3 linked regions of the Homo sapiens genome follow. The protein of the gene in region 3 purifies or fractionates together with the protein of the main gene of each other region. This does not show direct contact. Each region holds a gene or a part of one and is shown on either strand. Other genes may lie near its edges. The genes, in order: DNAJC2, VIPR2 and MZT2A.

Region 1 (3,648 bases), on a different chromosome or scaffold from region 3:
GAGAAACAGAAATGCTTCTGCCTCTTTTCAGGAACTGGAGGATAAGAAAGAGTTATCCGAGGAATCAGAAGATGAAGAATTGCAGTTGGAAGAGTTTCCCATGCTGAAAACACTTGATCCCAAAGACTGGAAGGTATTTAATATCTGAATATTTTGTTCAGTCAGATGCTTTGTTAGACATAGACAATTTTCTTATGAGTTTTCCATTAATAAACATGTTTTAAGATGATTCAGCAAGATAACTATGATTTAGCATCTGTTTATTACTAAGTCTTGAGAGCATTAGCACTAGCCATGAGATACTGTCTCTGCTGGAGAAATCCAGGAAGAGTTCACAGAAAAGATAATGTTTGCACCGGTCTTAAAAGGACAGGCAGCAATTAGTGAAGCAGAGAAGTGAGAAAAGTATTCTGGGCAGAAGGAGTAAGATATACAAAGACACAAAGGAGTAAAAGAATATGTAGTGCCTCTTGAGGAATTGATAAGTCGTATAGGGTACATGCGGTATGGTGATGAGAAATCTAGTGTCTTTAAAAGGACACTAGACCAAACTCTGTTGTGTCCTTTTTATACCATGCTAAAGAAGGAATTAAAATTTATTTTTGGGACAGTAAGATACCATCAAAAGTTTCTTAGCTAATTTTAGAAAAGTAATTCCCTTGGCAGTACAGGAAATTGCTTGAAAGGGGGCAAGGGACTGGAGGGGAAGTGAATAGTTTACTGTTATAGGGCTAGTGCACTAAGGCAGACCTGTGACTGAATCCTTGAACTTACTATGTGGCTGGGTTTTGAGGAAGAGGGGTCAGATTTGCCTTTTTTGGAGGTAGCATTAACAGGCTTTGGTGACCCTGGCTGTGTGGCACAAGACAAAGAGAAGTATTCAGAGGTCCTTCCCAGCATTAGCGCTTGAGTGACCTGCTAGAGTGTGTGGTCAGTAACCAATGCTGGGATGAGGATAAGAATGTTTGTGGGAGGTGCTGTTTGTGTCCAAGTTTGACTATGTGAAGACTGAGGTTTTGGTACCATAGTGGTGAAGCTGTCTAGTAGATGGTTAGAAATTGGTCTATGACTCCAAAAAGAGGTTACAGCCAAAGACTTTTTGAAGTCATTGGCACATAGTGGTGGTTGCTGTGAGGAATTGAATGACAACAGCAAGGGACAAAAGTATAAACAAATAGATAATGCTTTAGTAGGTACTTGTATAATAGTTAAATGCGTATGCTGTGGAATTGGAGTGCCTGAATTCAAATCTGGTTCTGCCATTTGGTGCACTTCGACCTTGGGAAAGTTCCCAGATATGTGTGTACCTCATTTCCCTTGTTGCTACAGTGAGATTGTTAACAGCTCAAAGGTTTACCTTGAGGATTAATAAAAGGATGCTTATAAAGCACTTAAGTTAGTACTTGCTGCATGATAAATGCCAAACAAATAATGGATAATAAGAGTTCCTATGTCATTGGTTGTTTAGAGGACTAAATAAGCTAAAGCATATGTATAAAACATTTAGAAAAGTAAGCACTCAGAAAGTGTTAGCTGATTCTCCCACCACCTCATCCATTTTAAAAGAAAAAGACAACATTGGGGAGCATGGATATTTAAGGGGTAGGAAGAGGAGGAAAAACAGCAGAAGATACTAAGAAGGGTGACAGAAGTAGAAAGAAAACAAAGAAAAAGACACTTTGTTATTTGAAGAAATACTTCCTAAACATCAGGCAGCGTATTCTTCCAGAAACTAAGGGAGGAGCAAGAGGGAAAAAGAGGCAGGGTGCAGTGGCTCATGCCTGTAATCCCAGCACTTTGGGAGGCTGAGGCGGGCAGATCACCCGAGGTCAGGAGTTCGAGACCAGCCTGACCAACATGGTGAAACCCCATCTCTACTAAAAATACAAAATTAGCCAGGCGTGGTGGCACATGCCTGTAATCGCAGCTACTTGGGAGGCTGAGGCAGGAGAATCACTTCAACTCAGGAGGTGGAGGTTGCTGTGAGCCGAGATCATACAATTGCACTCCAGCCTGGGCAACAAGAGCAAAACTCTATCTCAAAAAAAGGGGCGTGGGAAGAGTCACCTGTGTCACTGCTTCAGAAAGAGGTCAATCACATAACATGAAAAATTATTTTAAAAAACACTGGACCGGGCATGGTGGCACATGCTTATAATCCCAGCTACTCAGGAGGCTGAAACAGGAGAATCGCTTGAACCTGGGAGGTGGAGATTGCGGTAAGCTGAGATCGTGCCACTGCACTCCAGCCTGGGCAACAAGAGTGAAACTCCATCTCAAAAAAAAAAAAAACCATTGGATTTGGCAAACTAAAAGTTTCGGTGTCCTCATTGAAAGCAGTTTGAGTAAAATGATCGGGAAGGCAAGAGATTACAGTGAATGAAGAGTGATTAGGAAGTGATGAAGTAGGATCAAAGTGTAAAGTACTCTTTCAAAGCTGGGTAGTAAAGAAAATGAGAGAAGATAGTAACTTCAGGAGAAGGCAGAGTCGGGAAAAGACAGAACTGGGGAGTGTTGAGATCTATAAGAGGGAGAAGGTCTTTGGTATAGAAAGAAGTAGATTGTATCAGAGTAAGGTAGCAGAGTTCATTCACTTGTTCAGTTTATTTTCATTCATCAAATATGGATCAAACACCATGTCAGATACTGTTCTAGGTGTCAAGGATACTGTACTGAACAAGACAGTATTACTGCTTACACACAGCTTATATTCCAGTGACATAATAAGTAAACAAGAACATGTAGCCATAAGTTCCATAGGATGGCCATAAGCTATCAACAGGTGCTAAGAGAAAAAAGGGGTCTTTGGTCAAGTAAGTTTGGAAAATGCTAGGTTTTACAGGTTTCTGTTTGTTTATTTTTTAAATCTAATTACAGGACTTCTCAGAGCCTTTCTTAGGCCTTTGTGCATACAAATCATCAAGGAGGCTGTATAATAGTCCACATTTACCTCTTTTTTAAATTTATTTTTTATTTTATTTTATTTTGAGACGGAGTCTCACTCTGTTGCCCAGGCTGGAGTGCAGTGGCGCAGTCTTGGCCCACTGCAACCTCCGCCTCCCAGGTTCAAGCAATTATCTTGCCTCAGCCTCCCGAGTAGCTGGGATTACAGGTGGGCGCCACCACGCCCGGCTAATTTTTGTATTTTTAGTAGAGACAGGGTTTCACCATGTTAGCCAGGCTGGTCTCAAACTCCTGACCTCATGATCCACCCACCTCAGCCTCCCAAAGCACTGGGATTACAGGCGTAAGCTGGCATGCCCAGCCTGTCTCTTCTTTTTTTTAAAGACAGGGTCTTGGCCGGGTGCAGTGGCTCACACCTGTAATCCCTTGGCCCTTTGGGAGGCCAAGGCAGGTATATCACCTGAGGTCAGGAGTTCGAGACCAGCCTGACCAACAAGGTGAAACCCTGTCTCTACTAAAAATACACAAATTAGCCAGGCGTGGTGGTGTGCACCTGTAATCCCAGCAACTTGGAAGGCTGAGGCAGGAGAATTGCTTGAACCCGGGAGGCGGAGGTTGCAGTGAGCCAAGATGGCACCACTGCACTCCAGCCTGGGCAACAGAGCAAGACTCCGTCTCAAAAAAATAAAATAAAATCTTAAAATCATTAAAAAAAAAAAAAAAAAGACAGGGTCTTGCTCTGTC
Region 2 (4,175 bases), on a different chromosome or scaffold from region 3:
TTTCCTGTTTGCTTTCTGCCAAGTACCCACCATCCTTAACCAGATCAAAATCATCTGTCCTATAGCTAAGAATTTAAAATGCAAGAATTCAGATAAATGCTTATCCCCTGGAAAACTGAAGCTGCTTTTGCAAAGCATAACAAAGCCCATGAAATTGTTTTAGTAACTGTTGCTATCATCTCAAACCATGGAAACTGTTACTGCTAAGGATTAAGGTTATCTTTTTAAAGGTGTGTGTGAAGACCCTACCTATCCAACTCTCTCTGAGTTTTACCAGTAGTTCATTAACAAACAATGGGAAGTGGCCTTTCTTTTTCTTTTTTTTTTTTTAAGATGCAGGTGGTGACCCTGAACCACAGCTGAGTGAGGCGCATTCCCGGGTGAGAATGTCACGGGAGTTCTTACTCACCAAGCCTCTGCCTTACCTTTGTGTTTTTCTGTTTGAGACCTCAGAAGCTCTGCACATTTTGTTTCTTCCTCCTGTATTTCCAGATGAAATCGGCATTCTGGGTGAATGCTGTTCACCTGTTCACGGTTAAAAGAAATATTAATAACTAAAAATTCCACAAGAAGAAGAAAAGCAAGCAAAAATTCTACAAAAACAACCCCAAACCTCACAGCTTTAAACTGCTTCCAAACCAAAATGCATTTAAAACCAATCACCTTGATTTTTCTGGCATTTTTTAAAAACTTCACTATTTACTTTGTAAAGGTATTATAAAACAAACACAAAATCTAATAGAATTTTTTTTCTGAGCAGGAAAATGAACTTACTAACAGAATACATCGGTACTAATTTGGAGGCAACAGAGCTCTTTACTCCATTCATCTCTCCATACCCGGCTCCTCCGTTTCACACCCTTTGGTTTGGTTTAAGCGGATGCCTGTGGACTGTGCCGCTTCCTCCGAGGACGGCCTCCACCCGGGAAAGAGCCGTGATAGAAGGGCTTTATTTTTAAAGGTGTTGGTACATGTTCAAAGCTTAACCCTCTAACTACAGATAAAACTGCAATCGTTTTGACTAGAATTTGGGGTGGAAGAGATATTCAAAGAAATCAGCAAGATGAGGAGGGAGGCAGAGGTGGGGGAATCACACCATTGTGGCCCCACAGAGAAGAGGGGGCGATTTCCAGTCAGGATCCATCAGGGGAGCGAAAGGTGCCACAAAGATAGTAATTAACAGTCTACTAATGTGAGAAGAAGGCAGAACTACACAATGCTTCCTCTCAGAAGGCACCGTTTCTACCTTGTTCTTCACGCCCTCCGCGAAGTCAGCACAGGCCTGCCAAGCGGCCCTTGGGGGCTTAAGGAGGGCTCCCCCCACCCATCCTTTTGGTCTTGATCTTCCCCCTCCCCCACCACCGACCAAAATTCTACTTGTACTAAAGTAGTAACTAAAGAGAATCATACTGTTGGGCGTACTATGGCCATCTATGTTTAGTTATCTTACTATTGAAATGGTCAATGAGAGTTCCAACCAGGAACACAATATCCTAACAGAATTAAGGGGAAAACAATGCTGGAACTTCTGCCACCTTCAGCCCCATTTAAAAGAGCCCCGAGCTTGCTTCTTGCTCGTGACTGAACCAGCACCAGGCACTGACTTTGGGCTCCAAGTCCTCTGTTTTCATGCAGGACAAGTAAGTGGCTTAAATTTCAGAATTAAGGAAATTATATTGATGTAAAAAGAAAAACTTTGTTAAAGTGTAAAAGACATTAATAATACCTGACGTTCCTGGAATATGCACAGCAATGACTTCTTTTAGGACATTTTAGCAATGAAAGCAGCATTAACCGTGATAAAACCCGTTACTTTCCAAGGACCCGCTCCGCAAAGCGCCCACCCTCGAGGGAGGAAAGCCGAGCTGCGCCTCCGCGCAAGGCCAGGGAGTGTGGCTCGAGCCCCGCTGCAGACCGGGCGTCGCCGGTTAATCAATGACACTGTCGGGTCAGCAGCGCAGCCTCCCAGCTGCGGAGGGGCCGCGGATCGATCCAGACCTGCCTCGGCTGCGACGCGCACGAAAACCGCGCGCACCGCAAACCCGCTTCAGTCTCCAAGAGGAAAGCAAGAAACAAGGCTCGGGTTTTTTTCTTTCTTTTTTCTTTCCTTTTTTTTTAAGGTTCACAGAGGGAATAATTCAGAACTCCATGTGCGAAGGCACTTAATCAACAAACTTATGAGCAGTTAGTTCCTCCAGTGCCCTTGGGAAAAAGCAACTATTTCCAAAAGGAAACTTTATTTAACCGACGCCACGTCCCCCCGACACTAAAACTAACCAGTAAGTACAGGGAGGGACCGAGAGGCATCTGCGGCCAACGCCAACCCCGATCTCCCCGTGAAACGCGCAGCCCGCGCAGGCGCCCGCAGCTCCCAGCTCCCGGGACGGCCCCGAACGAGCTCATCGTTGACGCGTCCAGGAAGAAACGATCCCGTTTCCAGCAAACCCCGGACGGTGGGGCGCGGGGAAGGGCGCAGGCAGCCTCCCAACCCGAGTCCCGCAACCCGGCGGGACCGGAGCTCAGCGCTTCACGCTCTCCGGGAGGAAGCTCCGGACCCCGGGCGACCCCGCTCCCTCTCCCGGACCCCGCCCGCGCTCCAGCACCCGGGAGGAAGGCGAAGACCGGCGGGAGGAGCGCTCTTCTCGGAAGGGGAGAACCGGGTCCGAGGCGCCGTGGGGCGGGGGTCGCGGGCGCACTCACGGGGGCGAGCAGCCAGCAGGTCAGCAGCGCGGGAGGCAGCAGCGTCCGCATCCCGAGCTCAGCGTGCCGGGGGCCGCCCAGCGCCCGCCGCCTCCGTCCTAGGTCCCCGCGGTTCCGCCGCCTCCAGCATGGGCCGGGAGCGAGTGCGCGGAGACCTCGGGCCCCGCAGCTGTAGCCGAGCGCCCGAGCGCGGGGGCCGCCCCCTCCGTCCCGGCAGCTGGAGCGCGCTCAATGCACGCCCGTCCCCCACGCGCCCCGCCGCTCCGCCCCCCGCCCCTGTCCCCGCCCCGCGCTGCCCCAATCCTCGTCTCCCTCCTCCCCCGAGAACCCCCGCTCCGCGCCCCTCCTCACCGCCCCCCACTTCCCCTTCCGCTGCGCCCCGCGCCCTCTCCTCGCCCCTGGGCTCTCTGTCCCCGCCGCGCGCGCTCCCTCTGGTCTCCTCGACCCCCCCAGCCTCTCTCTCCGTTCTCCTCCCCTCTTCCCTGGCCCACGCCCCCCTCCCGGCCGCGCCTCCCCGATCTGTGGGCGGAGGGGCTGGGAAGCGGGGTGCTCAGTGCGCGCCCGGCTCCGAGTAGAGAGAACTGGGGGAGAGCGGCCGGCGCGGGGCCGGGAGAGGAGGACCGGGCCAGGTGTGCGCTCGGAAGGGGCGGATGCCTTTGCGGCCGCCTGTACCTGCCTTTCTAAACAACTGCGGAAGCCCAAGAAAGCGGCCAGAGACCCGTCCGGGGTGGGCGCGCCGTCTTTGTAGCCAGTGGGGCTAGGTTGGGGCATCTGAAAATGGAGAAAATCAGAGTGCTTTTTGGTGGGGATCCCCGCAGCCTCAAAGAGGACATCAGGTCGAACAGAAAGCTGGAGAAAAACGCAGACGGGGGTATAGGTGGGTCCCAGCCTCAGCTGGGTGGCGGGTTTTGTGTCCTGCGTTTGCAAAACGGGGGTCATTCTCTCCCCGCAAACGCGGCGGCGGGTGGGGAACGCTGGGCGGGGACTCACGCGGTGCCACTGGGGCCGCCCCGCCGCGCCCCACGCGGGACTGCGCGGCCTCCCAAGGCGCCCGCGTGACCAACCCAGGAGAGCTCGGCGTTCCCCAGCAAGTGGAAAGCACTGGAATGAGAGATACAAGTTAAGTTCGTGTTGTTTTAATTTTTTATTTGGAAATAATTTCAAACTTACACAAAAATTAGAAGAATAAGAATATTACAAATAACTCCTTTTTATCCTTTTTGTGGATTCGGTCATTAACATTTACCTCATTGGGCTTATCATTTGCTTCTCTCTGATCCCCCACCCCCCGTATTCACAGATATCGATTTTTCTATCATCTGATGTTTATCATCCACATTATCTATCATCTACCTATCCATCATCTACGTATCATCTATCGATCTGTCATGTACCTATCATCTATCATCTTCCTATCGATCATCTATCTGTAATCTGTCATCTATTATCTGTCATCTATCATCTACCTGTCCATC
Region 3 (3,117 bases):
TGGCAGGTGCCTTTAGTCCCAGCTACTTGGGAGGCTGAGGCAGGAGAATGGCGTGAACCTGGGAGGTGGAGCTTACAGTGAGCCAAGATTGCGCCACTGCACTCCAGCCTGGGTGACAGAGCGAGACTCCATCTCAAAAAAAAAAAAAACTAGCCAGGTGGGCGTGGTGGTGGCGCCCATCTGTATTCCCAGCTACTTGGGAGGCTGAGGTGGGAGGATTGCCTGAGCCTGAGGGGGATGTTGCAGTGAGCCAAGAGCTTGTGACTGGACTCCAGCCTGGGCAACAGAGCAAGACCCTGTCTCAAAAAAAAAAAAAGAAAAGAAAGGAAAAGAAAAACCACTAGCAATGGAGTTGGGAGGAGGCTTCAGAGCCCAGAGAGCAGCAAGGGTTACACAGGGTGGAGCAGGAAGGGTCAGCAGAGCCCCACACGTGTGAGCTGGGGCAGTGGGAGGGCATGGGAGAGGCAGAGCGCTGTCCAGGTGCTGGTAGGCCCAGGGCAGGAGGAGGCAGGTGGGGGGGCACAGTCAAGATGTATGTGGGGGTTGTGGCACTGGAAATGCAGGCATAGAGGGGCCAGGAGGATTAGGGGGTGCCATGTGAGCGAATGGGGGCTCCAAGAGAATTTACCCGAGGACAGGAGTGGCCTGGAGTGCTGGGCCCCTCAGGGTCATTTGTTTCTCGAGGGCTGTGTCCTGGAAGCATAGCCCAGGTCCTGTAGGCTGGGTGGCAGAAAGCCACGACATGAGGGCACCGAGGCCCCATGGGGATAGAGTGGAACCTGAGGAGGAGGTGGAGGGGAATGGGGCAGACGTGTGCTGCTGAGTGAGAGGCAGAGGCCACAGATGGAATGCTGAGAGCTCTCTGAGGCCCACATATTACAGCTTCTGACCACACAGAGCTCCAGCTGCCCTGGTAATGGCAGAATCTGGGGTGGAGGATTCTGTCACCCCATATGGCAGGGGGGTTGTCGGAGTAATCCGGGGGGAGGGGCATGGAGGCCATAGGTTTCCCACAGGACTCGGGTGTTGAGTTCTCCAGGCTATGGGCCAGGCCCTCTCGAGCTTGCCTCTGTGAGCTGCAGCAGGCACCCTGGGTCCTCTGGATGCCTGTCCCCCAGCCATGCAGACGGCCTGTGGGAACAACCACCACCAGATTCACTCATACCCACAGGGAAGGGGAAATAGAAAACCCCAGAAGCACAGAGGGTCGATGCTTGTCTTGGTGAGAGTCTGGAGTCATTGAGGGAAAAATAAATTCAGTCAAGCGTTATATTTAAGTTTAGGGAAACTATACGTTTTAAAAGTTGTCCAGAGCATGCGTGTAAGATGACGTTTGGAGTGTGGAAGCCGTGAGTCTCACCTGAGCTGTGCTGCCTGATACAGGAACTTCGAGCCACACATGGCTGGCGTGGTCATTGCACTGCGTGTGGTATGCGCAGCAGATGCCAAAGGACCGGTACAAAAGGGAATGCAAAAAACCCACCACACCTTGGGAGGCCGAGGCTGCTGGATCTCTTGAGCTCAGCAGTTCAGGACTAGCCAGGGCAACACAGGGAGACCCAATCTCTACAAAACATACAAAAATTAGCAGGGCATGGTGGCACACATCTGTAGTTCCAACTACTTGGGAGGCTGAGGTTGGAGGATTGCTTGAGCCTGGGAGGTTGAGGTTGCAGTGAGCTGTGACTGCACCACTGCACTCCAGCCTGGGTGAGAGAGTGAGACCCTGTCTCAAAAATAAACAAAAAACCCCAAAGTGAATGAGGCTGGGCATTGGTTCACACCTGTAATCCCAACATTTTTGGAGGCTGAGGCAGGAGCATCACTTGAAGCTCGGAGTTTGAGACCAGCCTGGGCAACATAGCAAGACCCCACCCATTTCTACAAAGAAACAAGAAAAAGAACAAAGGTGAATGCAACATCTTATGAATAATTTATGTACTGACTACATATTGAAATAATACGTTGGATATTTTAGATTAATTAAAGTATTTGAGCTAATTGTGCATTTTCTTTTACTTTTTATTTATTTATTTATTTTTGAGACAGTCTTGCTCTGTCACCCAGGCTGGAGTGCAGTGGCACACTCATAGCTCACTGCAGCCTCAACCTCGTGGGCTCAGGCAATCCTCCCACCTCCTCTTGAGTAGCTGGGACTACAGGTGCACACTACCACACCTGGCTAATTTTTAAATTTTTTGTGGAGATGGAGGTCTCACTATGTTGTCCCAGCTGGTCTCTAGCTCCTGGCCTCAAAGGATCCTCCCACCTTGGCCTCCCAAAGCACTGGAATTACAGGCACGAGCCACTGACCCCTGCTGAGCCAGGCTGTTTTTAACATTCAGTGGTCATTGACTGTTTTTGGCGTTTAGGAGGGCCCTCCAGGGACCAGGTGTAGGGGCATCAGTCACCCTGCCCTCACACCCCAACCTGCAGCCACACTTGGTTCAATCCCACTGTCTAGCCCGTCTGACTCAGTAGCCCCTCCCGAGGGAGCAGGGCTAAGCAAAGCTGGTTTCCCCACTGCAAGGCACTGCAGGCCATTCTATTCTGGGCCTTCTCATCCTTCATAAAGTGAGGAGGCCTGAACAGGGCTCCCCACTAGCCCCGAGAGCACGCAATTCCTGAAGATTTCCAGGATTTTCTTAATATCAGTTATGGCTTACGGTTATGTTGGTTTCACATTTCCAGGGTTTGTCAACCCTGTCAGATTTAAAGATAAGCATTATTAGCCAGGTGTGGCCCCATGCTTGTAGTCCCAGCTACATCGAGGCTGAGGCAGGAAGATCCCTCGAGGCCATGGGTTCCGGGCAGCAATGAACTGTGATTGCATCACTGTGCTCTAGACCAGGTGACAGAGCAAGACTCAGTCTCTAAACCCCCCTCCCCCACCACTCTTAAAAAAAAAAAAAGCATTATTTGCTCTTTTCTGCTTCGCTGTCATCCTTGTTTCCAGAAGGGACTGGGTCACTACTGAGGGGAGGAGAGGAAGCTCAGATGGCGGCAAACTGAAGGGAAGCCGACTCTGAGTCAGGCCTAGGTGCACGGCCTGCCATGCTGCGTGCTGTGGGGAGCTGAGAGCGCATGGGCACCTAAGCACCCAGATTAGGCTGCGGC

Evidence for each region.
Region 1: the proteins of MZT2A (region 3) and DNAJC2 purify together in Homo sapiens (co-immunoprecipitation; one large-scale study listed by IntAct). This does not show direct contact.
Region 2: the proteins of MZT2A (region 3) and VIPR2 purify together in Homo sapiens (co-immunoprecipitation; one large-scale study listed by IntAct). This does not show direct contact.

Annotation. Positions count from the first base shown.
Region 1 is NC_000007.14:103,338,249-103,341,896, reverse strand, and holds part of DNAJC2 (dnaJ homolog subfamily C member 2), read left to right. Parts: coding exon 1-133; intron 134-3,648. UniProt on the Homo sapiens protein: Acts both as a chaperone in the cytosol and as a chromatin regulator in the nucleus.
Region 2 is NC_000007.14:159,142,021-159,146,195, forward strand, and holds the start of VIPR2 (vasoactive intestinal polypeptide receptor 2 isoform 1 precursor), read right to left. Parts: upstream 2,848-4,175; 5' UTR 2,752-2,847; coding exon 2,701-2,751; intron 526-2,700; coding exon 426-525; intron 1-425. UniProt on the Homo sapiens protein: G protein-coupled receptor activated by the neuropeptides vasoactive intestinal peptide (VIP) and pituitary adenylate cyclase-activating polypeptide (ADCYAP1/PACAP).
Region 3 is NC_000002.12:131,486,401-131,489,517, reverse strand, and holds part of MZT2A (mitotic-spindle organizing protein 2A), read left to right. Parts: intron 1-3,117. UniProt on the Homo sapiens protein: Required for the recruitment and the assembly of the gamma-tubulin ring complex (gTuRC) at the centrosome.